Linked DNA regions of Homo sapiens. The protein of the gene in region 3 purifies or fractionates together with the protein of the main gene of each other region. This does not show direct contact. Each region holds a gene or a part of one and is shown on either strand. Other genes may lie near its edges.

Evidence for each region.
Region 1: the proteins of UGT1A10 (region 3) and CRABP2 purify together in Homo sapiens (affinity purification with mass spectrometry; 3 studies listed by BioGRID and IntAct, with this or other methods). This does not show direct contact.
Region 2: the proteins of UGT1A10 (region 3) and SERPINB4 purify together in Homo sapiens (affinity purification with mass spectrometry; 3 studies listed by BioGRID and IntAct, with this or other methods). This does not show direct contact.
Region 4: the proteins of UGT1A10 (region 3) and S100A7A purify together in Homo sapiens (affinity purification with mass spectrometry; 3 studies listed by BioGRID and IntAct, with this or other methods). This does not show direct contact.

What each region holds. Positions count from the first base shown.
Region 1 is NC_000001.11:156,702,584-156,709,923, forward strand, and holds the start of CRABP2 (cellular retinoic acid-binding protein 2), read right to left. Parts: upstream 3,001-7,340; 5' UTR 2,864-3,000; coding exon 2,794-2,863; intron 1-2,793. UniProt on the Homo sapiens protein: Transports retinoic acid to the nucleus. Regulates the access of retinoic acid to the nuclear retinoic acid receptors.
Region 2 is NC_000018.10:63,641,256-63,649,155, forward strand, and holds the start of SERPINB4 (serpin B4), read right to left. Parts: upstream 3,002-7,900; 5' UTR 2,954-3,001; intron 2,368-2,953; exon of another isoform or gene 2,349-2,367; 5' UTR 2,323-2,348; coding exon 2,158-2,322; intron 1,963-2,157; coding exon 1,906-1,962; intron 634-1,905; coding exon 505-633; intron 1-504. UniProt on the Homo sapiens protein: May act as a protease inhibitor to modulate the host immune response against tumor cells.
Region 3 is NC_000002.12:233,631,503-233,639,459, reverse strand, and holds the start of UGT1A10 (UDP-glucuronosyltransferase 1A10 precursor), read right to left. Parts: upstream 3,013-7,957; 5' UTR 2,938-3,012; coding exon 2,083-2,937; intron 1-2,082.
Region 4 is NC_000001.11:153,412,226-153,419,541, reverse strand, and holds the start of S100A7A (protein S100-A7A), read right to left. Parts: upstream 3,023-7,316; 5' UTR 2,979-3,022; intron 1,477-2,978; 5' UTR 1,460-1,476; coding exon 1,319-1,459; intron 398-1,318; coding exon 233-397; 3' UTR 1-232.

The DNA.
Region 1 (7,340 bases), on a different chromosome or scaffold from region 3:
CCAACGTGGAGAAACCTCATCTCCACTTAAAATAAAAAATTAGCCAGGCATGGTGGCACATGCCTCTACTCCCAGCTGCTCGGGAGGCTGAGGCGGGAGAATCACTTGAATCCAGGAGACGGAGGTTGTGGTGAGCCAAGATTGTGCCATTGCACTCCAGCCTGGGCAACAAGAGCAAAACTCTGTCTCAAAAAAAAAAAAAAAAAAAAAGCCAATTGGGATGGTATGTGTTTAGGACTTAGCACACACAGTGCCAGGCATATGCTTAAGTTTTCAGGAAACAATAGCTATGATTGTTGGTATTATTTTTACTGATAAAAGGAAGGCAAAGGGTCAGGTGCCATGGCTCATGCCTGTAATCCCAGCACTTTGGGAGGCCGAGGCAGCAGGACTGCTTAAGCCCAGAAGTTTGAGACTAGATTGGGCAACACAGTGAGACCCTACCACTAAAAAAAAAAAAAAAAAAAAAAAGGAAAGCAAAAAGCTGGGGCTCAAAGCTCTCTGCATTAGGCACCGTACTCATCTGCCCTTCTGGAAGACTCCCATACCCCTGTCCCCTCAAGGGAACCCCCTCTGCTGTGAGAAGAAGGAATAGAAAAGGAGACTGCCCTCCCCGCTCTGTGTGATGTATCCCCTTCTTCAGGACCCCCCACTCCCCTCACAGGGTCCGGCTATCTCATTCAGCCTCGTGGATTCAGACTCTCTGTGCACCTCCATATCCCAGCCCAGATTGGACCCCTTCTCTCTGCTCCCCAGTTATTAACCGAAGTGGGGGAGATAGGAGACAGCACCCCTCTGAAAGGAAGACGTGCAGAGCAGGGGGCCTCTCTGGATGGGCTCCAGGTCTAAGCTCCACACACCCACCTCACCTGGCCTGATCTGCCGCCCTGTCCTGGAGTAGAGCCAGGGATGCACTAGGCGGGGGTGAAAGGGCCCTCTGCCAGGTAGCAGGATTTCCCTGCCCCTGATCTGGCCAACTCCCTGGACCTCCTCCAGACCTGGGTTCCTAGAGAAACAAATCCTCTTTCCCCTCAGTGCCAAAGCATACCTACCCTACTGCAAACAGAAGAGAGAGGGAGAGAGGAAGCCTTGCCCCTGGGGAGCCCAGGACCCCCATTGTTGGCTGCTGAACTCTTGTGTCTAGGAAGAAATGACAGGTCCCCAAGTCTTATTGAGATGGACCCTTGACTAGAGCTAAGAGGGGTGTGCCAGGACCGAAGTTCCTGCAGAGGCAAGGCTGGGTTCAGAGGAGACATCCTTTCAGCGAGCCCCTGGTGCCTGTGGAGCTGAGGGCCCAGCTTAGCCGGCCTTAGCTGGCTCAGGACTGTGTTTGTCTAATGGATCTGTTTTTAATCTGCCCCCTGCAGGGCCTGAGGAGGGCACGTGGCTCAGAGAGACCCTGCAGGGAGGACAAACAGACTGAAGACAGACAGCAGGATTGGGGCCTTGAATCTTACTCTTCAGCTGGGGCCTGGGGGTGTACCAGACCACCACCTCATCCACTGAGGACAGGGGCCAGAATCCAGAGAAGATGAGGAGGGAGTGGCATCTAGGCTTTCCAAAGAGAAAATTTCTTTTTGTCTTTAAGTTTAGCAAGGACAGAGCAAGAAAGACTGATATGACTCCAAGAAGTATTGTGGTTAGATCGCAGGAAGAACTAACGGCAAGGACTGATGGAGATCCCTGCTCTCTCTGCAGCATTCCAGACCTGTCTTAGATCCAGACTCACTCCTATAGTCCAGGGAGAGGGGTGCCTTCCCTCCCTCCCCTCTCGCCCAACCCAGCCGAACTACCGTCTCTCTGTTGAGTGCAGGAATTGAAGGCAGCAGGCCTGCCCTTACGCTCCCAGTGGCTGGGGTCCTTAACTAACGTCCATCTCTCCCCCAGAGTCCTCTCCCAGTCACCAGGTCCTGGCACTCTCCCCTGCCCCAGATGTCTAGCCCAGTTGGCCCAGAGGGCACACAGAAGGTGGGCTGGAAAAGTGGGAAAGGCAGTCTGGATTGACTTAGTTTTCCCCACCTTTGACCAACACACCCAATTGGGCTGCAGCCGATCTATGGTCGGGGGAGGTAGGTGGGAACCTAGATTTTTGGAAATGTGGGATTGGGGTTTCACACGAAACCATTTGTTGAAATCCAAGAAAGTGATAATTATCCCTAGCGATTTTAGAACTCTGGAGCTGCTCGCTGTATGAAAATACTTGTCTCACAGATGGGGGGTGGGGAGAGCAGAGTGGAAAGTGCAGAGGGGGAGGAAAGTGGGGCTCAGGGGGCGCTGGGGCAGCAGATCACCTCGCAGGCAGAGCTGGGCGCCGAGGGGTAATGAGCCTGCCCTGGGGATTGGGTTACCGAGGGGGGCACCGGGAAGGAGATTGGAATGTCTCCGAGCGGCTGGGCAGGGTAGGGAACCGGGCTCCCAGTCTGGATGCAGGGTTCGTGGCTCCACCAGCCCGCAGCTTCTGAACTGCAGAGAGCCAGGTGCCTCGGCCCGCCGAGTCCGGCCGCTGAGGCCAGCCTCCCCTTCCCCCAGAGGCCAACCTCGCGCTTCTGGTTTCTACGTGATTCACAGGCCGTGAGTCACCGCAGTGTTGGCACCGGTGGGCCCCCGCAGGAGAAAGCGGGATTTAGGCGTCGTGCCCAGAGCCCCGGGACCCGGACGCCTGGCACGTTTTTCGGGGATGCAGGCACCCAGTGTCTCACGCCCTGATTGTGGTCCCGCTGTCTTTCTCATCCCCAACTTCGAGGACTCCAGAGCCCCCCCTTGCCCCACCTGGGCCCTCGAACATTTCCTTACCCAGCACTTTGAGCAATTCCTCGAAGTTTTCCGATCGGATGATTTTCCAGTTGCCAGAGAAGTTGGGCATGGTGGCGGCGCGGGAGGCGGTCCCCGTAGACTCCTAGGCTGGAGCACTGGACACTGTCTTTTAGTCAAAAGAGACGTCGCCGTCGCCGGGTCGTCAGGTTCTGGAACCAAGACAAGTCCAGGGACAACCCCAAAGCTGGCCTGGGCTCCCGCGCGGACAGCTTTTATACCCTGTACGGAACCGCCCCTGCCCAGGATTGAAGTGGCCCCGCCTCCCGCTCCGCCCCCCCCCACCTGGGGGGCCCTGCGCCCCCGCCACCAACCTCTGGATCTAGCCCGCGTGTGGGTCCAGGCTTCTCTGGGGACCGAGATAGCCTTCTCCTGCGCTAGTAAGTGGATGGGGAAGCGGACGCAAAGCCAGCACTTGAATCGCGCTCTCCGCAGAGGCGGGGGGAGCTAGCTGCGGGCGCAGATGCTCAGGGCTCGTGTATGGCTGTCCCCCACCCGAGTTCCTCACGTCTCGCCTGTTCCCCACCCATCCCCAACCTGACTCGGTGCATTCAACTCCTTGGTGCCGGACACCTGGCGACCCCACCCGCAGGCGGACCCCAGATCTTGAGCCGTAGCTGGCCCTAGCTCCATTGAACCCTGAACTGGATCCAGTGGGACCACTCCGTACTCAGAGAGGGGCTTGGGAGCTGCGGGGTTCCGGGGGTTAGGGATCTAAGTGAGGCAACGGCGCCCCCTGCTGGAACAACTCGGAGAGGCTGGGCGGGGGCGGCACGGTCCCCCCACCCCTCCACCCTGCTTCGGGCTCACGTAATGCCTGGGGACTCTGGAAGTAGTCGCCAGGCGACTCGCTCCCCTTAATGCGCTGGGCGGACATTGAAGGGTTAAGCAGGAGCCCAGGGCGCGAGGCTGGGAGGGCAGAGGTCACAGCCAATCACTTGACGCAAGGTCTTTATTAAAACGCTTTCTCTGTCGCTTCACTCCCGAGACCCCGAGGGGGTCTCAGTAGGGGGAAGGGAGGGAGGCGGGGACAGAGGCGCGGAGCCCTGGCGAGCTGCGCCACCACCTAGATAGGCGGGAGGATGGGTGCCGGGGGAGAAGGCGGAGCAGGGTCTCAGGTGTCACCATCCTGAGCTGTAAAACGGGCGGAAGGAGCGACCTCCCCTCCCTTGGAGAGCGGCTTTGAAACGGGAGATCAAAGAGGGTGGGAGGAGGGCACGGCTTCCTGCAGAGACCCGAGTGGGAGTGGGCGAGACCCCAGTGGAGATGGCAGGGAGACGGAGAAACAGAAACGGAGGTCAGGCGGGGAGCCTCGGGGACAGGCCTGGGACCCGAGGCCGGAAACCGCAGAGGAGCGAAGCCTGGCGGGATGCAGTGATTGGAGCCAAAGGAACCGTCCCGGCCTGTCCAACGCGGGGGGGCCTTCGGCCCGGTGGCCCTGAGCGAACCGATGCACGTGGCCCCGCCGCATCCCATCCCCCACCCTCCCCAGACTCTCCCTCCCAGCTCCTTCTGAGGCGGAAAGAAAAACCCTACATCTGGTCCCAGCCCTGGGTCCCTGCCCTGGCCCCTCCTCGCCAGCGTGGCCAAGGGTGGAGCAGGCAGTCGCTCTCAGATCTCTGAGCCCTTATGTTTAGAACCTAGGGGCGATCTAGGGAGTTGGGAGCTTTGGTGGGAGCTGGGGAAGAGTCTGGAGGAAGATGACCAAAGGAGAGGGGCCAGAGTGACCTCAGCATTAAGAACTGAAGGCTGGAGAATGTACTGGGGGGTCGGGCCTCCGGGTTGCAGAGAGGGAAATCTGCAGAAATGGGTGGGTGAGAAAATAAAGCAGCTGGGCTGACTGGGCAGCAGGAGGGATGGAGATTCCACTGCATAGGACTTCTCTATGGGGCCCCGCCCGCAATAGCCAACAAACTGAGATTTGAATACTTCAGCCTGGGTTTAGGGGTCCAGGTTTTGTGTGGGAGAGCTTACTTGGGGGTGTTTGGGAGGCCTGGGCTTCTGCAAGGAAGAGGGCAGCAGGTCAAGGAGCTCTCTGAGGAAGGACAGACAAAAGCAGAGATGGTGGAAGGAAGCGGGGTGGGGCGGGGTGGGGGGTTCCCTGGGAAGTGCTTAGGGCCTGGGGTTGCAGGCACAGCCCCAGCTCCTCCCCCATCCTCCCTGCTCAGCAATGCTGTAGGTAAAGGAGGGGGATTAGGCTCTGACAGTGAAATCAGGCTCCTGGCCAAAGGGATGAGGAGAGGCTAGAGGAGGGAACATGGTGGAAACCAGATTCCTGCTGCCCCTCCTTCCCTTCACTGCCCCCTGCCTCCCCCACCCAGGTCATTTCGTCCATCTCCATGCCACCAGCCCTCTTGAGCCCCCAGCTGGAAGCGCCCAGCCTCCTGCTCAATAAGCATCCCTCCTCCTGCACGACAAAAGGATCAGTGCACTCTCCCCCCTAGCCTTGTGAGTGACTAAAGATGTTAAAACCTCACCCAAAAGATGGTCACCAGGATGCAGGGACAGTCATAGGAGGGGGTGATTGGCCCCTCGATGCTAGAGCAGGGGAGCACAGGCTGGATGGCTTGGCTGAGGCTGCTGGGGAGGCTGGAGCCAGGCAGTGGGGCTCCCTGGGGTGGGGGCAGGGAGACCTGGGCCCACTCCCCTCTCCTCACTTCCCCACTCCCTCCACCAGCCAACTGGCCATGATTTCCAAAGAGACAGAAGTAAGACAAAGGGAAGTCGGGCTGGGAGAGGAATTCTTTCCAGATGTGAGCATTTGCGGTTTGGCAGCTCTGGGCCTGAGCTCCAGCTCCAGCCCCAGCACCCTAACCCTGGCTGAGGGAGGTGGGTAGGGGGTCTAAGCAGGGTGCTGAATAGCTGAGGCCGAGGTCTCAGCCTCTAGCAGCCCTGTTACCCCAGGGAGCAGCAGGCACGGAGGGTTCTTAGGGAAGATGCTAGGGAAGGGGACTCGGGGAGGTGGAGGGGTAGGAGATGAGAGAGTGGAGGGGCCTGGGGAAGGGGACTAACCAAGGAGGATGGAGATGCCTAGAGGCAAGGAGCAGGGGCTAGGACCCTGGAACCAGGCAATGGGGAGGAGCTGCAGCCTTCATCAGCCACTCAGTCACAAACAACTGGCTTTAATTTCCCGCTGGGATCAATAAGGAGAAGGAATTTCCCAGTGCCTCTGGCCTTTTAATTATGACCTAATCTGCTACAGATCTGCCCAGGGTGACCCTTTGCAGGAGCTTTGGTCATAACCCTCTTGGGGCCCCCCCAGGAATCTGGAGACTCAGTGAGGGGAGGGTGCAAAGTTGATGAGAAAAGCTGGGGGGGCAGAGGTGGGATAGGTAGGGGTGGAGTGAGGAGGAAACAAGCTCGAGAGACTTAGGAGAGCAACATTCTGGGACTTTGTTCCATGGTGGTGTGGCTAAAAGGAAGGTGGCTGGTCTTACACCTGAAGGAATAGAGATGGGCAGGAGAGGGCTCCTGGATGGTGAAGAGTGTGAGTGGGTGTAGATGTGTATATAACTGAGGCGTCTAGGACTTGGGGAGAGGAGAACCCCCTCCCCTTTCCATTACTTCTTGAGGCTAGCAGGGAGAAGGAGTGACCACCCAGCCCAGCCGCTGGAGAGGGAAAGGTTGACTGGGGATGGGAAGTGTGGGAGAGTGATTAAGCCCCCACCCTCACCCCTAACCGGGACCATGGAGATTCTCTGGCCAAATTCAGCATTTGGAGAAGAACCTCACCCTGGGCAGTGTTATTGTATCTGCTGGGTCAGAGAGTTTGTTGGCTGGAACGCATGTAGAAATTAAACCCAGGTGGGGCTAGACACCTGGATCTCTGCTACTCCGCATAGGGGCAGCAATGAATTCAGGACTTCTACGGAATGCAGGGAAGTCTGAGAGTAGAAGAGAGGGGCTGGGAGCAGCTGGGGCAAGAGAGTTCTGTCTCCTGGCCACCCTGAGCCTTCAGGATTCCACTTAGCACAGAGCACAGACTCAGGCAGGTTGCCCCCCAGTCTGGCCTGATCCTTGGTACAGAGAAGAGTGCTGCTTTCTTTTCTCTCTGGGTTCAGGGGCCCAGCCCTTTTCAAGTCTGAGAAGGCCAGGCTCTGATTTGCCCCAAATGAAATTGTCCTCACAGCAGGATAAATAGGAGTTAGGCCTGAAAAAAGTTCCCAGCAAACTGAAGTGCAAGCAGGGAGAAGGGTCAGAAATCTAGAAAGGAGGCAACTCATTTCCCAGAAACATTTGCATGCAGGAGAGAGATCGTGAAAACTAGGGATGATTAGGGTAGAGAATCCTGAGTGACCTGGGTAAAGGGGCAGCTGGACCCAAAGGCAGGGGATGACAGTAACCTCCAGGGCTAGCCCTGAGGCCTAGCAAAGAGAGGCAGATGTGGCCCAGTAGGGTCAGGACCACAGACTGGGAGGAGGGGGCTGACCAGGATTACAGTCAGATAAGGAGAGGGTCTGCGCAGCATCCAGGTGGCCAGGCGGTGCCTCTGACTGTGACAAGAGGCATTATAGGCAGACCAGGGAGGA
Region 2 (7,900 bases), on a different chromosome or scaffold from region 3:
CAGGCTTCCCTGAAGGAGATTCATTGCTTCTCAGACTTCTCTCCAGTAATTTTAACCATGATGTTTCTGATCTTTGTTTTTGTCTTTCATCCTGTGCATTCAATATTTCCTGGTACTTCCTCAACTATTCTCAGGAACTCACCCAAGCCTGCCCATTCCAATAATATCCCATTAGTCATACATTTCCCACCAAGATGTATCGTATGTGACTGAGTCAGTGCCAGTTTATCGATGGTATCTTATTACTTATTACTCTTACTCACTCTATTACACAACCTCCTCTTTTATCACAAGATTATCCCTAAATCCACACTTCAGTGATGTATCGTTGGGGTCTGGGACACTCCAGTGGGGGAGAGTTGTGGAAATGGAGCTAATGCACTCTGAGTAAATGCTCTCCACCTGAGTCGGCCAGGCTCATCTGCCTTGCTTTCTTCCATTTGGCCACTCAGAGACACAGACATCAGGATGCAAATGAAATGTGGGTAGGCCAGGTGAAATTACCTGTAAAAATTGATACGTCTTTTCTCCGAAGAGCTTGTTGGCGATCTTCAGCTCATATGCATCAGTGGATTTGTTGAATTCAGTCAGAAGCTTTTGAAACTGGTGATGAACATTTCCTGACCTATCAACCTTCAAACATCAAAAAGGGAGATCATTCAATTGCTGTATCAATGTAAATACTAAACCCATGCTAAGTCTGTTAGATCAGTCCCTAAATGCTGGTAGTCTCATTGAGGACCTTTGATGTTATTCCCTGATAATTGGTGTATTTCACCTCAAATACCCTTCAAAATCCACCTTATATTTGACTTCTTCCAGAAAATTCTTCTTGCTCTAACGTACTGCAATCTTTTCTCTTCTGAACTAAAGATGCAGCGCTGTCTACCAGTAGATTTTCTCCTTGTTGGTTTAAAGGGTTAGGTTTAGCTTCCCAGTTAAACTCTCAGCTCCTTATGGGCAAGGACCATATTTCACTTCTAACAGTCATCAAGGATACGAGTATGTTGAAGGTTGGATATTTTAAATAGATTATGCCAGGAAGCCCTGTTATACCTGTTGGTGCTATTATCTTGTAGGACACATTGACTGATCTGTGGCTCTTTCCTCATGATGGTCATTCTCTGCACGTAAGAAGAGTGTATGCCAGGTCCATGGCTAAGGACTTTACATGGGTAACTCTAAGTCTTTAGTTCAATTCAGATGAACACAAGAAAGCTCAGAGAATGGGGAAAAAAACCCTGTTTATAGAGACATAAATTAGAAGTGCCAAGTTTTGAACCTAAGCCTGTTTAAATCTAGAACTTTCTACCTTCCAGCAAAGCATTTTGCACTATTAAGGCTCTAAACCAATATATTCCATAGCAATCATTTTCCAAAATATACTTGGACTTGTGCTTATTCCTCTGAATCTCATTAATGACTCAATGAAAATTAAATTATTTTCACATTATTATGATTAGTATAATTATAGCTACTTTATAATAATAATAACATTTATTATGACTTTTATGGGCAAGGCACTGTTGTAAACATTTGCATGTATTTGCATGTATTGAGTCAGATTTTTTCTTACCCTTAGTTTTCTGGGATGAGGTCACTGGGACTCCGAGCAGTTGTGTCCTGCTCTTATTCATCATTTGTGAAGAGCAAAGCTGGAGTCTGAACCCAGCCTATCCTGATCCAGACCTATGCTCTGAGGTACAGTGCTGACTGTCTTTTAGTAACGCAGAAATGAGGAATAATAATTATGTGCCATGAAATGCCAACCCACTCTGTATGTCTCAATCTTTGTGTCCAAGATTTTCCCTAAAACTGGCCTTTTCTTAGTTTTTGTGAAGTTCCAGGTTTAAACTATGACCTGTTCAGGGATCTAAAGCTGAACCATAGTGCTCTGTGACTCACATGATATGTTGCAGCTTTTTCTGTGGTGTTCTCTGTGACTTGATCAAAGTGAAGAACCTGGAAGAGACATGAAGCGGGACAAGAAAACTTTACTCAAAAGATCTGTTTAAGTCAGTGGTCTCACAGTTATGGGAATTCCTGCACAGCCCCCTGTGCTACCCATCAGACCACCACATCTATTACCATCTGCGTGCTAGCCGACGGAACCAGAGAAAAACTGCAACAGGACAACGTAATGATGCTGATAGCTACCTTGCTAATTTGTTGTGCAGTGTTGTCTTTGGCTCCTAAGAGGACCATCCCTAATGCTGATGTGATGCTGATAGGGGAATAGAAGATGTTGTTCTCTTTTGATTTTCTGAACTGTTGGAACAGATCGAACATGAACTTGGTGTTGGCTTCACTGAGTGAATTCATGGTGAACTCGATGTGATCTGGAACTCCTGGAAAAGCATCAGATTCCTGTCAGAATGACTTTAATAAATGGAATGGTATTTTGTAGTACAATTTTCTTAAAGAAATGATATATCTGGGTTGTGAGATTTTGACATTTAAAGTTTTTCTCTTATTTTTAACGCTTCAATCTTTCTACAATGTGCATATATTAAATATATTAATGTCCTAATTAGAAGGCTTACAAAACTACGTTTTTAAAGACTATTGTAAATAAGTAATCGACCCTCTTTATCTTTCTTTCATTGCTGGTTACACTAGAGCTAGGTAGGATGGCTTTACAATGAATGCTAACAGGAGACCTCTGTGGATCACATCCAACCAGCTGTTAAGATGCGTCCCTGACATCTCCTTCAAGACTCTCTGGCTGCAAGGCACTCTCCCTCTGTGTTCCTAAAAGTGCCTTGGTTTACTTGGAACTAAGCAATTTAGATAAAGGACAAATCAGATGAAATAGGTATTTTAATTTTGCTCTGGCAGAATAAGTAAAATATAATCAGACAGAATGCAGGAGATGCATGATATAGAACACAGTATCATTATTATTCTCAAAAATAATTCATGTTATTAAGCTGGAGAGGCTTGAAGCTCTTACCTGTGTTCCTAGAGGAAGCAGAGGTGGGCAGAGAGGCTGTGTGTGTCTGTGGAATGAAGGGTGAGATCCTAAATTTATGCCTCTCCTCTTGCTGCCTTTCCCTCTGTGGTTAGTATTTGAAGTTACTCAACTTCAGATTTCACAAGCGGGCTAACACTCACCTTTATGAATATGAAAATTTATGACAAAGGACAGGATTACAGTTCTACCATTGTACCTCCTTTTTAATCTATAGGGAAAAAATAAGAATGCAAGTCAGCAGTCACCGGCTCATGTGAAATACATGTAGGTGCCTTTCTAATGCCAATGAGAATAAGTTTAGAATTCCAATTTCCTCTCATTTGTTTCAACTCCATCCCTTTGTATTCTACTCCAGCTGTAAAACAAAAACAAAAACAAACAAACAAAAACCCCACCATTCTTTTCTTGGATTTTGCATTGTCTTTTAGGCATACTTCGAATACCAAAGAACTAAAAAGCTTACATTTCCTGTTTTTCAGTTCTGAAAGTTTTTGTCATCCTATGAATTTCCTTAGTAATTTTTCTGTATAACAAGGAATGTAGTGCTAATTCTAAGTCCAAAGAGATAGTGAAGAAGTGTACTTCAGTATCTTATAGCATACTATGGAGAATAGGATTCTATTGCCTTCTCCTGAGTGCTCAGCTTTGGCAGTGATCCTACCAGTCACTTCCTGTGCCCCTTACAACCATCCCAGATGGTTTTCTGTTGCATAGGCTCAGTGAGAAAGTTATCTGCCTTGCTGAGTGATATGGTTTGGCTGTGTTCCCACCCAAATCTCAACTTGAATTGTATCTACCAGAATTTCCACATGTTATTGGAGGGACCCAGGTAGAGGTAATTGAATCATGGGGGCCGGTCTTTCTTGTGCTATTCTCATGATAGTTAATAAGCCTCAGGAGATCCGATGGGTTTATCAGGGGTTTCTTCTTTTGCTTCTTCCTCATCTTCTCTTGCAGCCACCATGTAAGAATAACTTTTGCCTCCTACTGTGATTCTGAGGCCTCCCCAATCACGTGGAACTCTAAGCCCAATTAAACCTCTTTTTCTTGCCAGTCTCAGGTATGTTTTTATCAGCAGCATGAAAACAGACTAACACATTGAGTTAACAGGCTGACACTGAGAAGAGCAATTGAAACAGACGGGCCATTTTAAATGGCAGCTTTCTAATTTTACATTTAAAAATGAAGCCGAAAAATAAATTGCTTGACCTGTCAGGATCACAACATTTCTCAATGGTCCTTCTGTTTAGCACCTGGCTTCAGACTCATTCCAGTGTTTCCCCTGGAATATCTTGTAATCTGAAGAATGTCTGTGGCCAGGGAGAGGGGTTGTTGTCCAAGGCCATTTAATCCAATATCTCCCTGACAACCAGAGTGGGGGGCTGTTTGTTTTGTGGACCCCCTTTTTATTAACATATAATTTATATACCATAAATTCAACTGTACAATTCAATGATTTTATTATATTCACAAAGTTGTGCTATCATCATCATGATCTCATTCCACAACAATTTCACTACCTCCAAAAGAAATCTTGTACTTCATTCTTCCCTTCCTGGAGACCCTGGAAACCAGGAATCTACCTCCTGTTTCTATGGATTTGCCTATTCCAAACATTTCAGGTAAATGGAATCATACAGTAAGTCCTTTTGTGACTGGCTTCTTTAATCTAGTGTTATTTTCATGGTTTGTCCACATCATTGCATGGATCAGTACATCATTCCTTTTTGTGGTCGAATAATATTCCATTCTATGAATAGACCAGATTTTCTTTAATCATAAGTTGATGGACATTTGTGTTGTTTCCATCCTTTTACTATTATGAATAATGATGTTGTGACCTTTCATGTACATTTTTTTGCATGGCATATTTCTTCATTTCTTTTGAGTATAAACCTATGAATGAAATCGCTGGGTCATATGGTAAATCCAGGTTAACATTTTGAGGAAATGCCAGACTCTTCTCCATAGAATTCTGCACAAGTGTGCATTCCAACCGACCGTGAATAGAGTTCTGATTTCTCCACATTCTCCCCAACACTTGGTATTGTCATGGGCCCTTTTTAACACCAGCCGTGAGTTTGTTTTCTCAGCACATCACAAAGTCAAGGGAGATTTATCTACAACAAGGTGCCAGAAACACATAGGCTGAAAGTAGGGGCTGGATGGGAGAAAGGAAGCTGTGTTTCCAATCTGGAAATTTCTCACCTGCCTGTTTCCTCAACCCCCAAGACATGCTCTTCTTAGGTCTCCTGTATCAATATATATGTTTTGAGTCTCTGAATGAGTTTAAGAGGTATAAGTTCCCTGATTGAAGTCGGGGAATAGACTAATGGGGCGTTGATGGACTAAAAATCCAAAGATAGAAGAAAAAGAAAGAAGAGGAAATATCTGAGATAAAGAATTCCAAAAATGAATAATGGTCTTCTCAGCTGAGTCTGCATCCAGCGCTATAAGACAAAAATGGACCTTCCTCTATTGGAGTAGGATGGATTTACTCGGGTACCAAAGAAAAGGAATCTAATGTCTCATAGGACAGAAGCAACAAGCTCATCCTGGGAATGGAGGGAAGAAAAAAACAGGATAACAAGCTGAGACAAACCGGGGTTACAGGGGACCAATCTATGGAAGAGAATTTCAGACTATGGCTAAACGTCCTGAGGCACGGAGGTTTGCCCTGAAGGTTGAACTTAAGGAAAGGTACTAACTGAAAATGACCAGGAGTTTGCTTAAATTTAGAGAAAGCTTGGATGAGTTCAAATGAGAAATCATTTCAGGCATTTTTTTCTGTTCCTAAATAGTTCTCCTAGCATGTGATAGACAGGCTAGAAAGGACATATCCTGGTGTGTGAGACTGGACATATCCTGATGTCATATATTGCCACAGAGAACTCAGAAATTCCAAGAAGTTTTTGCATATGAACACTTGCCAACTTATGTCTCTTGATATTTCATAAACATACACCAACTTCATTGGCTCCAGGAATCCAGAAATTAAAAACAAATCCTCAATGGGAAATTACACTTTCAGGAAATATCCTGTCATTACTAATGCCTTTATAGATTGGTTAAGAAATATCTCCTAGATTTTCCTGGACCTCACTTCCTTATGAAGGCTGTAAAGTTTTCTCAGCATTGTTAAGTAACAAAGTCAAGAGAACATTTTATTTATTGTTTCTTATTATGTGCTTGTGGCAATCTATAGGGAAACTGGTTAGTGGAGGAGATTTTTCAAGCATCAAATAACAGAATATATGTCAATTACTGTATTCCCAAGGATTCTGTCTACAGATATAGATATGTATACATTGAACAACCTCAGAACAAGACTAACTAGCTTTCCTTTCTTGGTTTTCATGAGGGAAAACAACTCCAGTAAGGTTTGAAAAGCAGAGAGGGAAATAGTCTCATATGTAAGTACAGTTGGAGCACAGAGAAAATGATATTATCTCTTGCCTCCCTTCCTCCTTCCTACTCTGCCAACACTGCCAGGGACAGACATCATATTTACTGTATGCTTTCAAACCAAACCAAATCTAACCCTGTCCCCTTGCTGATCTCTTATAACTCTCTCCCTAATTCCTCTTGGCCTTCTTTTTCTATTGCTAAGAAACATCCTATATTGATGTTCTCCCTTTTACTAGAACTGTCCTTCTTCTTCCTCCTTGCTTTATCTGCACTATGGATTTTCCCCGATGGCTGCATGCTCCTTGATCTTTTCTCATGGATGTCTACTCACTCCCCCATTCTCATGCCATGAAGCCAGGAAGCATGATCTTCTCTTTTATTCCTACTGCCTTTTCTAGCCATTGTTTTTCTCTGTCTTCAATGGCCTATTTTAATTTCTTTGGCTATGCAAGTATACCATGTACTTCTTGTGGGAAAGAGAGTTTCTGGGGTGCCAGTTGAGTTGGTCTCCCCTGTGTGAGACACCCATGCGTAGCCATGGGCAGCCTCTGAGGAGAAAAGTCTCCTTATGCCTTCATGTCTTTATGCCCCGAGAGCATAACAGCTCAGCGGTATTCCACAGGTTGCTCAGGGAGATAACAGTCCCTTGAAGCAGGGGAGTATAATCAAACGTCTTGGCTCCTCCTGAAACCCGCTCCCGCCCATTTCAGTCCCTATAAGTTAAAGATCTTACGTAGTTTAGACACATGCCTTTGCTCAAAGAAATTCCCAGAAACCGCTACTGCTCTACATCTTATTGAATGACTCATGAGTTCTCTTTCACTGATTAATCCTTTTCCTCATCCCTTCCTCCTGCTCTCATCTGCCTTAGGAACAAAGAGCTTATAAACCAATAAATTAGGCGGAGCCTGAGAGCTCCACATTTTCTTTATCTAGTCTGTCATTGATGGGCATTTGTGTTGGTTCCATGTCTTTGTTATTGTAAATGATACTAACTATTCTTAAATACATAGGATTAGTGAGATGTGGACAAATAAAAATGACAAAAATGCTGTTGCAAATGTTTACTGGTACAACTATTTTGGAAAAACTTGGCCATATCTAGTTATTTTAGCAATTCTATGTTTAAATATATACCCTAGGCTAGGTGCGGTGGCTCATGCCTGTAATCCCAGCAATTTAGAAGATTGAGGGGGAGCAGATCATTTGAGGTGAGGAGTTCAAGACCTGCCTGAGTAAAATGGTGAAACCCTGTCTCTACTAAGATTACAAAAAAATAAAAATAGGGCCAGGCATGGTGGCTCACGCCTGTAATGCCAGCACTTTGGGATGCCGAGGCAGGTGGATCAGAAGGTCAGGAGTTCAAGATAAGCCTGGCCAATATGGTGTAACTCTGTGTCTACTAAATATACAAAAATCAGCCGGGCGTGGTGGCAGGCAATTATAATCCCAGCTACTCGGGAGGCTGAGGGGCAGAAGAATCGCTCTAACCAGGGAGGCAGAGGTTGCAGTGAGCTG
Region 3 (7,957 bases):
GGAAAGAGCAATATGCAGTGTTCATCGTTCTTTTGATGACAATTTACTTTTACTTTTGTGGTTGGGCCATATCCAAGGCTCTTTGACAGAAAGCCCTCTTTGAGATCGAATTCCTCTGTGAGAATTCTGCTGCCTTTACAGGTATAATCATAAAAATATACATTAATATACATAACCCTCTGCAAACTATAAAAACTTTCATACATGTGTATATTCTTTAATAGATATAGAAACACATTTATTTCATATCTCATAAAAGATATTTACAATCAAAATAAATGAAACCATATATAGTTTAATGTTTCATTTTTTATAGATATCCCTCTATCACAGGTGATATAAAATCATATATAGGTTTTTATATCTTTAAAGGCCTCTAGGTGACCCTGTGAGCCACAATAAACTCAGCGTGGGTTCAGGAAGTGGCAGATCCTCAACTCGGCCGAAGGCTGTGGGGTGTAGGCAACACATGGGTGGTGCTTGGTACTGTAATTAATGGAGGATAACGAGGAGAAAAGTGCTTTGATAAGTCCAACCTCTTAGAGTCCTGCAACTTGCATCTCCTCGCCTGGTCTTGCCATGAGCTGAAAGTCATGCCTAATTTTGAAAGGCCTACAACTGTAGTCTTCCTGCTTTTTAGAAAGAGCATTATTTCACTTTCCTATGAGATGGCTGAACGGTCACTCTTTCACCAACCATCTGCCAATGACAGATATAACTGTGTTACAAAGTCTACTGAATCTTGTAAGAAACCAGAACAATACATAAAAATGTGTACTCCACCCCTAATAAAATAATATAATGAGATGAGACACCAGGTGTTTCATCTGGATTTAGCAACTATGCGTTTGCCAAGAATCTTATTCTGGTATTTTTCAAGGATTTTTCAGTCACAAGCAACCGAATCCCTATTTAAACTGGCTACTCTAACAATATTACTCAATAATATTTTGGAAGTATATGCTCCAGCAAAGCAAAAGAAGCAGTACAAATATCAGACAAGGGAATTACTTGCAGATGGTATTGTATATTGTACATCTAATGCATACTACAAAATAATAAGAAAAGTTAGTGATGTGGCTGGATACAAGATACATATGCAAAAACCAAAATTTTAATTACCAGTAATCAGTTAAATGTAGAAATGGAAACATTGCCCTGTACAAAATAGTTTCTAAAGTAATAAAATGCCAAGGAATAAATGTTAAAAACAAACATAAAATGCTTATATAGTGAAAATTTTTATTTATGTATATAAAACAAGATCTGAATAAATAGTGAGACATATATGTTCCTGAACAGGAAGACTTAATAGCAAAAAGATGCCAGTCTTCTCAATTCAGGAAAACCCTGTAACCCTACGTGTAGGACTCTAGTCTACTAAGATAAAAGCAAGAATATAGAAATATATTCACGCAAGGAAAGTATTGAAGAGTGTTTACACAGCCTTATTCACAAAAGGAAAGAGTGGAAAATGGCTATATATATATCAATATTAATTGGTTAAAAAACTACATTGTATCCAAAGTAAAGAATTTTATGCAATTATTAAAAGAACTTGTCAAATCTGTCTGTATTGCTCTATAAAGGTACCCATAATTTATTGGCAAGTGAAAAATGCAAGATAAAGAAGAATATGTTCAGCCCAATACTAGATTTTATTTTTACTAAATAGGTATGGGAACTTACATGAGATATTGCATATGCCTAAAATACTTTTTTTCAATGAAAAGAATGTACACAAAACTTAAGAGCATTTCAACTACGGGGTCACATAGAATTAACAAAAAACGGAAGTTTCATTTCTTGCTGTGGTTTTTGGTACTTTTCTAAACATCGTATTTTAAAATGTAGCCTGAATATGATCTATAATTTTTAAATTATTACATATACTTTCAAGAAGGGCAGTTTTATAAAATTTGATAATTGATGAGTACATGAATTCGCACAAAATAATTTGTTAAACTGGAAAGAAATTTGAAATGCAACAAACGAAAATGTCAAATCACAGTTCAGTAAGGAATCCTTTTTTAATTTCCAAAGCCAGATTATTCTTAATGTGCTAAAGGAGAGGTGACTTACCATAGGCAATGGCTTTCCCTGATGACAGTTGATACCACCAATGAAGATCATGTTGGGCATCACGGGTTTGGGATAGTCCAAAACAAAGTCCGTTCGCAACAACCAAATTGATGTGTGACTGTAGAGATCATATGCCGTGACAGGGGTTTGGAGAATTTCAGAGGCTATTTCTAGGGCATTTCTAAAAAGATACTGGCAAAATAAATGGTCCTCCAAGTGCACGATGTGGTTCCATACTCTCTCCTTGAAAGTCATGGCATCTGAGAACCCTAAGAGATCATTGGGGACATAGGAAAGAGGAGCAGGGCACTGTGCACCTTCTTCAAGATGGTGGCAAAATATTCCCCTGGTGAAGACCACAGAGGGGAGGGAGAAATATTTAGCAACAATTAAGCCACAGGTATCAAAAGGATCCAGAAACACTGCATCAAAAGAACTCTCCTTTAAGTATTCTACTAATTTTCGGTCATTAAACAAACTCCTGCAATGCGAAAAAAATAAGTCAAGAAAACCACTGGATGAACTCATTAATAGAGAAAATATACTTTGTGCCTGTGCTTTCCATTGAGCATGGGCGAAAACCATGAATTCCCGGTTCTGATCTTCCAGAGTGTACGAGGTTGAGTAAGTCTTCACTGTGCAATTCAGTGATCTTTCCAGTTGCCAACTCACCTCTGGCATGACTACAACCACCTCATGCCCCCTGAGGATAAGTTTCTCCACCACCGACTGCATGGTGAACCAGTGACTCCCATCCATGGGCACTACCAGCAGCTTCCCTGCCTCGGCAAAGCCACAGGTCAGCAGTAGACACACACATAAAGGAACGGGGCTGGTCCACCCTGCGCGAGCCATGAGAGAACTGCAGCCCGAGCCAGCAGCTGGGATTCTAAGCTGCTATGATACAGTAGGCGGAAGAAGTACAGGCACAAAACCTGACCCCAATAGAGGGCGTGTATTTATCCTTTCATAAAAAAAAAAAAATCACACTCACTGCCAATGATTTACTCATAAGAACGATAACACACGAGTATCATTTGCTGAGATACCTACTTGTATGATTTCCAGACAAGAGTAGATTATGGTCTTCGCCTTGGAGGGAGAGCACGCTGCAAGTGAGTTTAGAAACAGAATTATTCAGCAATGCTTTTGGACCTTGAAGATTCGGAAAGATAAAGTGAAAGTAAATTTGAATAATGCTAATATTTTTGGAATTTATCCCAAAGCAAAATTTAGATTTTGACTTTAGCCAACCAAATACTCTCTGTCCAGAAAGAAATTGGCATCTCATGTTCCAGGGAAAGACAGCAAGGCTCTTAGCACTGACCTCCCAACTGGCAAGAAACTGGGGCTCACCTGCATCTCTGCAATGCATAATCATTGCTGGTTGTCTTCTTCCATATCCAAACCCTGAGAGGCCTCTGAAATGCCAAAATGAGATTGACAACCCTGCCTCCATGGACCATACCAGGGACTTGATGGAAAGTGACCATCACCTATTTTAATGACTTTCCTCAGATACGTTGCATGCAGTGGGGAGTTGCTGGCCCAGTCCTTGTGCGAACACTCTGCTGGGCTGCCTCTCTGTGACTGCTCTACTTCTATATTCTAAACACACCATCACTCCAGTGACCTCTTTCAGGAAAATATGTACTTGTCTCCCTCAGTCTGCTGAGGACTCCTGGAAGTCAGAGGTGATGCCATCTCTGTGTTTTTACCCTTCTTTCACAGTAGCCATGCTTTGCCTTTGACGTAGTTTGTATGTTTGTCCCCTCCATATATCATGGTCAAATATAATCCCCAGTGTTGGAGATGAAGCATGGTGGGAGGTGTTTGGGTCATGGGCATGGATCCCTCATGAATGGCTTGGCACTGCCCTCCCAATTGTGAGTGATTTCTCATGAGATTTGATTGTTTAAAAGTATACGACAGTACATGTATCCCAGATCTCTTAAAGTATAATTTTTTAAAAAATGCCAAAAACCCTCTTCAGGATATTATTCAGGAGAACTTCCCCAGCCTAGCAAGACAGGCCAACATTCAAATTCAGGAAACACAGAGAACACCATAAAGATACTCCTCGAGAAAAGCAACTCCAAGACACATAATCATCAGATTCACCAACGTTGAAATGAAGGAAAAATGTTAAGGGCAGCCAGAGAGAAAGGTCCTGTTACACACGAAAAGAAGTTCATCAGACTAACAGCAGACCTCTCTTTAGAGACCCAACAAACCAGAAGACAGTGGGGACCAAAACTCAACATTCCTAAAGGAAAGAATTTTCAATCCAGAATTTCATATCCAGCCAAACTAAGCTTCATAAGTGAAAGAGAAATAAAATCCTTTACAGACAAGCAAATGCTGAGAGATTTTGTCACCACCAGGCCTGCCTTACAAGAGCTCCTGAAGGAAGCACTAAATATGGAAAGAAAAAACCGGTACCAGCCACTGCACAAACATACCCAATTGTCAGGACAATTGACACTATAAAGAAACTGCATCAACTAGTAGGCAAAATAAACAGCTAGCATCATAATGACAGGATCAAGTTCACACATAACAATATTAATCTTAAATGTAAATGGGCTAAATGCCCCAATTAAAAGACACAGACTGGCAAATTGGATAAACAGTCAAGACCCATCAGTGTGCTGCATTCAGAAGACCCATTTCACGTGTAAAGACATATAGGCTCAAAATAAAGGGATAGAGGAATATTTACCAAGCATATGGAAAGCAAAAAAAATCAGGGGTTGCAATCTAGTCTCTGATAAAAACAGACTTTAAATCAACAGAGATCAAAAAAGACAAAGAAGGGCATTATATAATGGTAAAGGGATCAATGTAACAAGAAGAGCTAACCATCCTAAATATATATGCGCCCAATACAGGAGCACCCATAAAGCAAGTTCTTAGAGACCTACAAAGAGACTTAGGCTCCCATACAATAATAGTGGGAGACTTTAACACTCCATTGTCAATATTAGACAGATCAACGAGACAGAAAATTCACAAGGAAATTCAGGACTTGAACTCAGTTCTGGACCAAGCAAACCTAATACACATGTATAGAACTCTCCAACCCAAATCAACAGAATATATATTCTTCTCAGCACCACATTGCACTTATTCTAAAATTGACCACATAATTGGAAGCAAAACACTCCTCAGAAAATGCAAAAGAACAGAAATCATAACAAACAGTCTCTTAGATCACAGTGCAATCAAATTAGAACTCGGGATTAAGAAACTCACTCAAAACTGCACAACTACATGGAAACTGAACAACCTGCTCATGCATTACTACTGGGTAAATAATGAAATTAAGGCAGAAATAAATAAGTTCTTTGAAACCAATGAGAACAAAGACACAACCTACCAGAATCTCTGGGACACAGCTAAATCTATGTTCAGAGGGAAATTTATAGCACTAAATGCCCACAGGAGAAAGCAGGAAAGATCTAAAATCAAAACCATAACATCACAATTAAAAGAACTAGAGAAGCAAGAGCAAACAAATTCAAAAGCTAGCAGAAGACAAGAAAAAACTAAGATCAGAGCAGAACTGAAGGAGATAGAGACACAAAAAACCCTTCAAAAAATCAATGAATCCAGGAGCTGGTTTTTTGAAAAGATTAACAAAATAGATAGACCACTAGCCAGACTAATAAAGAAGAAAAGAGAGAAGAATCAATAGACACAATAAAAAATGATAAAGGGGAGATAACCACTGAGCCCACAGAAATACAAACTACCATCAGAGAATACTATCAACACCTCTACACAAATAAACTAGACATTCTAGGAGAAATGGATAAATTCCTGGACACGTATATCCTCCCAAGACTAAACCAGGAAGAAGCAGAATTCCTGAATAGACCAATAACAGGTTTTGAAATTGAGGCAGTAATTAATAGCCTACCCACCAAAAACACCCAGGACCAGATGAGTTCACAGCCGAACTCTACCAGAGGTACAAAGAGGGCCTGGTATCATTCCTTCTGAAACTATTCCAAACAATAGAAAAAGAGGGACTCCTCCATAACTCATTTTATGAGGCCAGCATCATCCTGATACCAGGATGTGGCAGAGACACAACAACCAAAAAAATTTCAGGCCAATATCTCTGATGAACATCGATGGCAAATATCCTCAATAAAGTACTGGCAAACTGAGTCCAGTAGTACATCAAAAAGCTTATCCACCATGATCAAGTCGGCTTCATCCCTGGGATGCAAGGCTGGTCCAACATACACAAATCAATAAACATAATCCATCACATAAACAGAACCAATGACAAAAACCACATGATTACATCAATAAAATTCAACAGCACTTCATGCCAAAAATTCTTGATGAACTAGTTATTGATGGAACGTATCTCAAAATAATAAAAGTTATTTATGACAAACCGACAGCCAATATCATACTGAATGGGCAAAAGCTGGAAGCATTCCCTTTGAAAACTGGCACAAGATAAGGATGCCCTCTCTCACCACTCCTATTCAACATAGTATTGGAAGTTCTGGCCAGGGCAATCAAGCAAGAGAAAGAAATACAGGGTATTCAAATAGGAAGAGAGAAAGTCAAATTGTCTCTGTTTGCAGATGACATGATTGTATATTTAGAAAACCCCATCATCTCAGTCCAAAAACTCCTTAAGCTGATAAGCAACTTCAGAAAAGTCTCAGGTTACAAAATCAATATGCAAAAATCACAAGCATTCCTATACACCAATAATGGAAAAACAGAGAGCCAAATTGTAAACTCCCATTCACAATTGCTACAAAAAGAATAAAATACCTAGGAATACAACTTACAAGGGATGGGAAAGACCTCTTCAAGGAGAACTACAAACCACTGCTCAAGTAAATAAGAGAGGACACAAACAAATGGAAAATCATTCCATGCTCATGGATAGGAAGAATCAATATTGTGAAAATGGCCGTACTGCTGAAGGTAATTTATAGATTGAATGCTATCCACATCAAGCTACCATTGACTTTCTTCACAGAATAGGAAAAAACTACTTTAAAGTTCATACGGAGCTAAAAAATAGCCTGTATATCCAAGACAATCCTAAGCAAAAAGAACAAAGCTGGAGGCATCATGCTACCTGACTTCAAATTATACTACAAGGCTACAGTAACAAAAACAGCATGGTACTTGTACCCAAACAGATATATAGACCAATGGAACTGAACAGAGGCCTCAGAAATTATGCCACACATCTACAACCATCTGACCTTTGACAAACCTGACAAAAACAAGAAATGGGGCAAGGATTTCCTATGTAATAAATGGTGTTGGGAAAACTGGCTAGCCATATGTAGAAAACTGAATCTGGACCCCTTCCTTACACCTTATACAAAAATTAACTCAAGATGGATTAAAGACTTAAACATAAGACCTAAAACCATGAAAACTCTAGAAAAAAACCTAGGCAATACCATTCAGGAAATAGGCATGGGCAAAGACTTCATAACTAAAACACCAAAAGCAATGACAACCAAAAGCCAAAATTGAGAAATGGGATCTAATTAAACTAAACAGCTTCTGCACAGCAAAAGAAACTATCATCAGACTGAACAGGCAACTTACAGAATGGGAGAAAAATTTTGCAATCTATCCATCTGACAAAGGGCTAATATCCTGAATCTACAAGGAACTTAAACCAATTTACAAGAAAAAAAAACCCCATCAAAAAGCGGTCGAAGGATATGAACAGACACTTCACAAAAGAAGACATTTATACAACCAACAAGCATATCAAAAAAAGCCGATCATCACTGGTCATTAGAGAAATGCAAATCAAAACCACAATGAGATACCATCTCATGCCAGTTAGAATGGCAATCATTAAAACTCAGGAAAG
Region 4 (7,316 bases), on a different chromosome or scaffold from region 3:
GTGAGAGGCAGATCAGCTCTGCTGGAGGCCATAGGGGGAACGTTGCTGGAGGGACATTACTCCTGGGTGACCCACTGGATGGGGGTGGGGGAAATTCTCCAACAAAGTTAACCTGGAATTGGTAGTTTTGACAATGTAGGTCACCAAAGAGAAGAAGAAATAAGGCAAGTGTCTGGTGGGAGGAGACACTTATTGTTCCTGGGGTCTCTGGAGGCCCCTTGGTGGGGCTGGATCACTGGCTTCCCCCAGAACAGGGCGCCGCTCCATGGCTCTGCTTGTGGTAGTCTGCGGCTATGTCTCCCAGCAAGGACAGAAACTCAGAAAAATCAATCTTCTTATCCTCATTCTTGTCCTTTTTCTCAAAGACAGTGGCGAGGTAATGTATGCCCTTTTTGTCCTGTGAAGAGAAAAACATACAAAATAGAAAAATTCAATCACAAACAAGTTTTGGGCTGGGAGGGGAGAGGAGGAGGCAGAGATACAGACAAGTACCTAGATCTGCACAGGCATGGTCGTGGGGCTGAGAGCACAGGGTGAGTGGGTGAAGTTGGGGTGAGGACGTGAGTGTTATCCCTGGAGTTCTCTAAGGAGACTTTTTGTCTCACACCTCAGGATGGGAGGCAGGTCCTGTCCCGAGGCACTCTGTTAAGTGACCTTGGGGAGAGCAGTCCCCTGCCCCAGCCTCAATCTTGCCTGTTCCCAGCATTTAAGGGCACTGCCTACCTTAGTTCTACCCCAGGGCCTCAAAATTGGCCCTCATGCTTTGTTCTCTTCTTTCTCTGACCTCCTCTCCTTTCTTCTCCTTTTCCACCAAACTCATCTTCTGGGTTCCCTACTCTTGGTCATCTAGACCCTTTGGTACCTAGTAGCCCACAGGTTTTTTCAGATTTGCCAATGAGTTTTCTTTATTGCAAAGAGGGCTATTGATTTCTACTAGCAATGGAACTTCTAGTGCTTTCCCAGTAATCTCAGGGATGTTGATGTGGGGCCTTTGGGAAGCAGGACCTGAGCATGTGAGTTTCAGTCTCACAGAGAGAGGGTCAGTGAGCGCTGGGAGGGGACTGTGCACTGTCCTCAAGCTGCACACTTTGCTGACCATCTAATAACCTCCTTTATATCTGTATAACTCTTTCCCATTTTCATACTTTTTCGCCTACCATCCTTAGATTCACATATGATCCAAGCAATAAAGCCCTATTTGCAAATGGGAAACTTTTTAATCAGAGGATGAGGGTGACCTGTCCAAGGCCACATAGCAAAATGTATCCTCAGCCATGCCAGGGTCCAACCAACATTGAGAAGCTAGACCCCAACTCACACAGGCACTGAGGAAATTGGGGAAGTTCTCCTTCATCATCGTCAGCAGGCTTGGCTTCTCAATCTTGCCATCACGTCCGGTGTATTTGTGAAACATGTCGATCATGCCTATTATGGACCTCTCAGCTTGAGTGTTGCTCATCTTTGCTTTCAAAAAGCCTTCAGGAAATAAAGACAATCATTTCTTACCTTAGTTTGAATTAAGGTCTCTATGTGGGGGTGTTAGAAGGAGGGCTGAGGACAGAGTAAAAACAGCCCTAAGATGGAGCAGAAGGAACTTGATTTTTTTAAATGTGATGGGATAAGTTGTTCAAAAATGAGAGGGTAGGACCAAGTCTGAGACCCGGCCCATCCTGGCCAGGGCCAAGAAGAGATGCAGGTGGATGGCAGAAGTCCAGCTGTGGACAGTGCTTCAGAGAAGGAGAAGCAGGGAGAGTCGGAGGCCAGCAACACATAGAAGAACTAAGCTGGGACCCCCCAGCCTCAACCAGCACATGGCGGACCCCACTCTTGAAACAGCACCAAATCCATCTCCTCCAGCTTCACAGTCGGGGTGAGAGTCACGGGGGCAGGACAATGGCCTTGGTGATCTGGTGTCTGACCCTCCTCGGCTGCTTCAGGAACCAGACACCGTGGGCCCCACCTTGACTCAAGTGCAAGCCCTGCATGACACAGTGCGTGCAGGCTCCAGGTGCACATGTGAGCGTGGACATGAGTGTGAGCAGGAAACACAGCCCTCTCCCGAGGACAGGGGGCCCTTCCTACATTCCCTTGGGAATGAGAAACAAGAATTGCCTCTGTTACAAGGAACAGAAATAACTCCCTGGTTCTTAAGCTGCTGGATGGGGTGGGAGTGAGGTGGGAGTCGCTTCATGTCTGCTCTTGGGAAATATCTGCACCCTCTGAATCACCAAGGGTTGACCCTGTTTAAATAAAAATGTCTGACTTTCCAAAGCAGATCTTCCAGCCAGTAGCCAGCCTGGGCTGCCCTGCACCCCAAGCCTGAAAAATAAGACAGTGCAGCTCTCATTTCTACACTTTCCAAAGAACCAGAAAAGGACCTTGGCTAACGCATGTGGGCATCTGACAATAAACCCCCAACACCTCTCAACGCAGGAGAAAGCTCCGTGCCAGCAACTGACTAAGAGAAGCCACTCAAAGCTTTCTGAATCTGAGGCCAAGGCCAAGGCCAGAGGCCAAGCCCTGTGCCCAGAGATTGACTGAGAATTTACAGGTCCAAGGCCTGGGGGTTTGGAGAGCCTCCAAAGCATTCACAGGGGATCCTTATCCCTCCTCCCTCTGTGGGGGCAGAGCTGGGGAGGGGATTCAGCAACTGGGATCCCAAAAGGAGAATGAATCCAGGGAGGAAGAAGACAGGAAGGAAAGGGAGGGTCCTGTGCTCAGGTCCCACTGGGGACATTTCCACAGGAGTTGTCTCAGGAGATCCCAAAGGAGCAATGGACAGGTCTGGTTCAGCCACCTGGTTGTACAGACGTGGGCTTTTGGGGTCAAGTGAAGGTCACACAGCCCAGCTAATGGCAGAGCTGGCCTAGACCCAGGCTTCTGAGACTTTGTCCACAGCCCTTTCCCTTCCTACAGGCAGCATGGCAGGCTGGGCACTGGGCACTTCTAGAAAATGCAAAGAGGCAGGTGAGACTTACCAGAACTGGGAAGTGTCACGAGTAGAAGGATGAGTGAGATGTGTGTGTTTGGACAAAGAGCAGTCCTTTATAAGGCTCAGCCTGGCTCTTCCCACGGGTTGGGAGGCCTGGGGCCACCTCTGTCATCTGTTTCTTGGAGGCTTGTCCCATATCAGGTGTGTGGGACACACCCAGGAGGCTGTGCTCAGGATTTCTGGCCAGGGTCCCAGGTCACCAGGTCCCACCCCACCCCAGAGACCTCACCTGGGGCCTTCTCTGGCTCAATCTTGATTTGAGGGTAAGGCAGCGGTACATGTGTAGTAACAGGTCAGGAAATGGGAGAAAAGAGCACTGGGCCTCTGGACCCAAAGAGAATGGAGTTTCAGACTCCCAAAGGCAGCATGGTCTTGTTTATTCCCTCCCCCAGTACTTCCACACATTTGTTGTGACAGCCTGTTCTATGACCCCCACCGCTTACTGAGCGTTTTAATGTCTAGACATCAAGACACCTGCTGCTCTTGCATCCTCCTCAACCCTCCCCTCATAGTCTTAAGAAGCAGGTGCTGCAATCTCTATTTTAGGAAAGGAGAAGTTGAGATGTTCCCAAGTTTACTCAGCTAGTAAACACAACAAATCATCACACGAACAAAGAAAAGCCTGAATCAAATCCTTACTCTTATCCCCTGTGCTATAGGTCTTGGGTTGCATCAGGGTCTGCCCTATGGGAACTCAAAGTCCAGGGAGGGAAGCAGGATTACTTCATTGCTAACCATTGGTCAGCCCCTCACAGAAGCCCTGGATTTAGGTGGGGGGACTGGGGTCAGGGGCCTCACTATCTAGGTTGAGTGGTGGAGTGACCCCCGCCCCCCCCGCCCCATGGAATGAGCCTGGAGGTAGGGAGTGGGAAAAGTTCTTTCCTGCCCCATGGCACTAACTTCCCAGAAAGTCTTCAGTGTTTTTCCTCCTCCTATGCAAAACAGCCTGTGTAGGAGTTGGGAGTTGTGCCCTTGGCTATAATGTGCCCTAACCTGCTGTGGAAAGCCTGAACCAGGTAGGGGCAAGAGGGTTGGGAAGGCACAGGAGTCCCTGGGGCATGGTGAGGAAAAGGAGATGATGAATCACTGAAATGGACTTTTTCTGCTACCCCCTTACAATGTTCCTTGTAGGCCGCAAGAGGTCCTGGTTCATTTAGTGCCAGCCCTTTAAGCACTCTGGGGCTCCATAGAGCTGATGTGATGTCTCCCTAGGTGGGACCTATTTTCTCCACCCATCATCTTTCTTCAACTTCCTTCTCTGTCAGTTCTTATGTAACCAGGGGGACCTGTTTCTCCCTCTCCCAGTTTCCCATATGACGGCAATATTACTTTTAGCGGCAAAAGATACACACACACACACACACGCACACACACACAAACACACACACAAACGCACACATACACACACACACAGACGAATACTACTCAACCATAAAAAGAATGAAATGATGACTTTTGCAGCAACATGGATGGAACTGGAGGCTATTATCTTAAGTGAAATTACTCAGAAAAAGAAAGTCAAACACTGTGCACCCTCATGTGTAAGTGGGAGGTACATCATGCATACAGATGGAGGTAGAGAGAGAGTAGAATCATAGACACTGGAGACAGTGAAGAGCAGGAGGTCAGGTGGTGGGTGAAGGAGGAGACATTTCTTAGTGGGTACAATGCGTGTTATTTAGGATGGCTGCATTAAAAGCCCGGACTTCACCACTGTGCAATGTGTTCATATACATGTGTATGCAGGTTTTTGTGTGGACATAAGCTTTCAGTTCTTTTGGGTAAATCCCGAAGAGTGTGATTTCTGGATCCTATGGTAAGAGTATGTTTAGTTTTTTAAGAAAGCACCAAACTGTCTTCCCAAGTGGCTGTACTATTTTGTGTTCCTGCCATCAATGAATGAGAGTTCCTGTTGCTCCACATCCTTCTTTAGCATTTGGTGCTGTCAGTGTTCCAGATTTTGGGCATTCTCATAAGTGTGTACTGGTATCTCATTGTTGTTTTAATTTGCATTTCCTTGAGGACATATGATGTGGAGCATCAGCTGATATGCTTATTTGTCACCTTCTGTATCTTCTTTGATGAGATGTCTGTTAAGGTCTTTGGCCCATTTTCTAATTGTTTGGTTTGTGTTCTTATCTCTGAGTTTTAAGAGTTCTTTGTACGTTTTGGATAACATACAAAGTCTGATATGTCTTTTGTAAATATTTTCTCCCAGTCTGTGGCTTATCTTTTCATTCTCTTGACAATATCTTTCACAAAGCAGAAATGTTAAATTTTAAAGAAGTCCAGCTTATGAATTATTTCTTTCATGGATTGTGCCTTGGTGTTGCATCTAAAAAGTCATCACCAAAACCAAGATGATCAAATTTCCTCTTATGCTACCATCTAGGAGTTTTGTAATATTATGTTTTGCATGTAGGTCTATGATTCATTTTGAGTTACATATCATCACTGTTTATAAAAAAAAGGAACAGAAGAAATGCAATACAAAAGGAATCAGGGACAACAATATTAATACAAGACAACAAAGAATTCTAAGAAAAGGGATTAAATGAAAAAGAAGAATATTTCCTATTGATTAGTGTGCAAGTCACCAAGATGCAATAGTCTTATCTTTTTTTTCTTTCTTGTTTTTTCTTTTTTATGAGACACACTTTTGCTCTTGCAGCCCAGGTTAGAGTGCAGTGGTGTCATCTTGGCTCGCTGCAATCTCCTCCTCCTAGGTTCAAGCGATTCTCCTGCCTCGGCCTTCTGAGTAGCTGGGATTATAGGCGCCTGCCACTATATCCAGCTAATTTTTGTATTTTTAATAGAAATGGGGTTTCATCATGTTGGCCGGGCTGGTCTCGAACTCCTGACCTCAAGCGATCCACTCATCTCGGCCTCCCAAAGTGCTGGGATTACAGTTGTGAGCCACTGCACCTGGCAATAGTCTTATCCTTATATACACAAGAACATAATATTGAATTATACAAAGCAAACATTGAAATAAATTAATGAAAACTGACAAATTTATATCACTTGGCAGTTTCTGGCAGAGTCTGCCCAGGAACTCAACAGAGTCGTCAGATAACAAAACACCAGTAATGGTGCAGAGCAGGGCGGGCAGATGCTGCCACAGCCCAGAAGCAGCCCTGGACATAAGGGCCCCGTGGATGAAGACAGCTGTTTCTAGTAAACACTAATCTCCAGAATTGGTTGGCCAGCTGGATTTGGCTTTAAGACCATAATTTGCTGATTCCTGATACAAAATATTTGAAGGACACACTTAAATTTATTTATATACACGTGCATTCATAAATTTGTGCCTGACCATAGAGAATACATATAAATTTCTTTTTTTGTATTGAGGTTCTTTATTAAATTAATTATATAATCTGTATTAGATAATTAACGTTTTTACAAAAATTATTATTATACTTTCAGTTCTAGGGTACATGTGCACAGCGTGCAGTCTTGTTACATATGTATACATGTGCCATGTTGGTGTGCTGCACCCATTAACTCGTCATTTACATTAGGTATATCTCCTAATGCTATCTCTCCCCGCTGCCCCAACCTCACGACAGGCCCTGATGTGTGATGTTCCCCTTCTTGTGTCCAGGTGTTCTCATTGTTCAATTCCCACCTATGAGTGAGAACATGTGATGTTTGGTTTTCTATCCTTGCGATAGTCTGCTGAGAATGATGGTTTCCAGCTTCATCCGTGTCCCTACAAAGGACATGAACTCATCCTTTTTTATGGCTGCATAGTATTCCATGGTGTATATGTGCCACATTTTCTTAATCCAGTCTATCATTGATGGACATTTGGGTTGGTTCCAAGTCTTTGCTATTGTGAATAGTGCTGCAATAAACATACGTGTGCATGTGTCTTTATAGCAGCATGATTTATAATCCCTTGGGTATATACCCAGTAATATGATGGCTGGGTCATATAATGGTATTTCTAGTTCTAGATCCTTGAGGAATCGCCACACTGTCTTCCACAATGGTTGAACTAGTTTACAGTCCCACCAACAGTGTAAAACTGTTCCTATTTCTCCACATCCTCCCCAGCATCTGTTGTTTCCTGACTTTTTAATGATCGCCATTCTAACTGGTGTGAGATGGTATCTCATTGTAGTTTTGATTTGCATTTCTCTGATGGCCAGTGATGAGCATTTTTTCATGTGTCTTTTGGCTGCATAAATGTCATCTTTTGAGAAGTGTCTGTTCATATCCTTTGCCCACTTTTTGATGGGGTTGTTTGTTTTTTTCTTGTAAATTTGTTTGAGTTCATTGTAGATTCTGGATATTAGCCCTTCGTCAGATGAGTAGG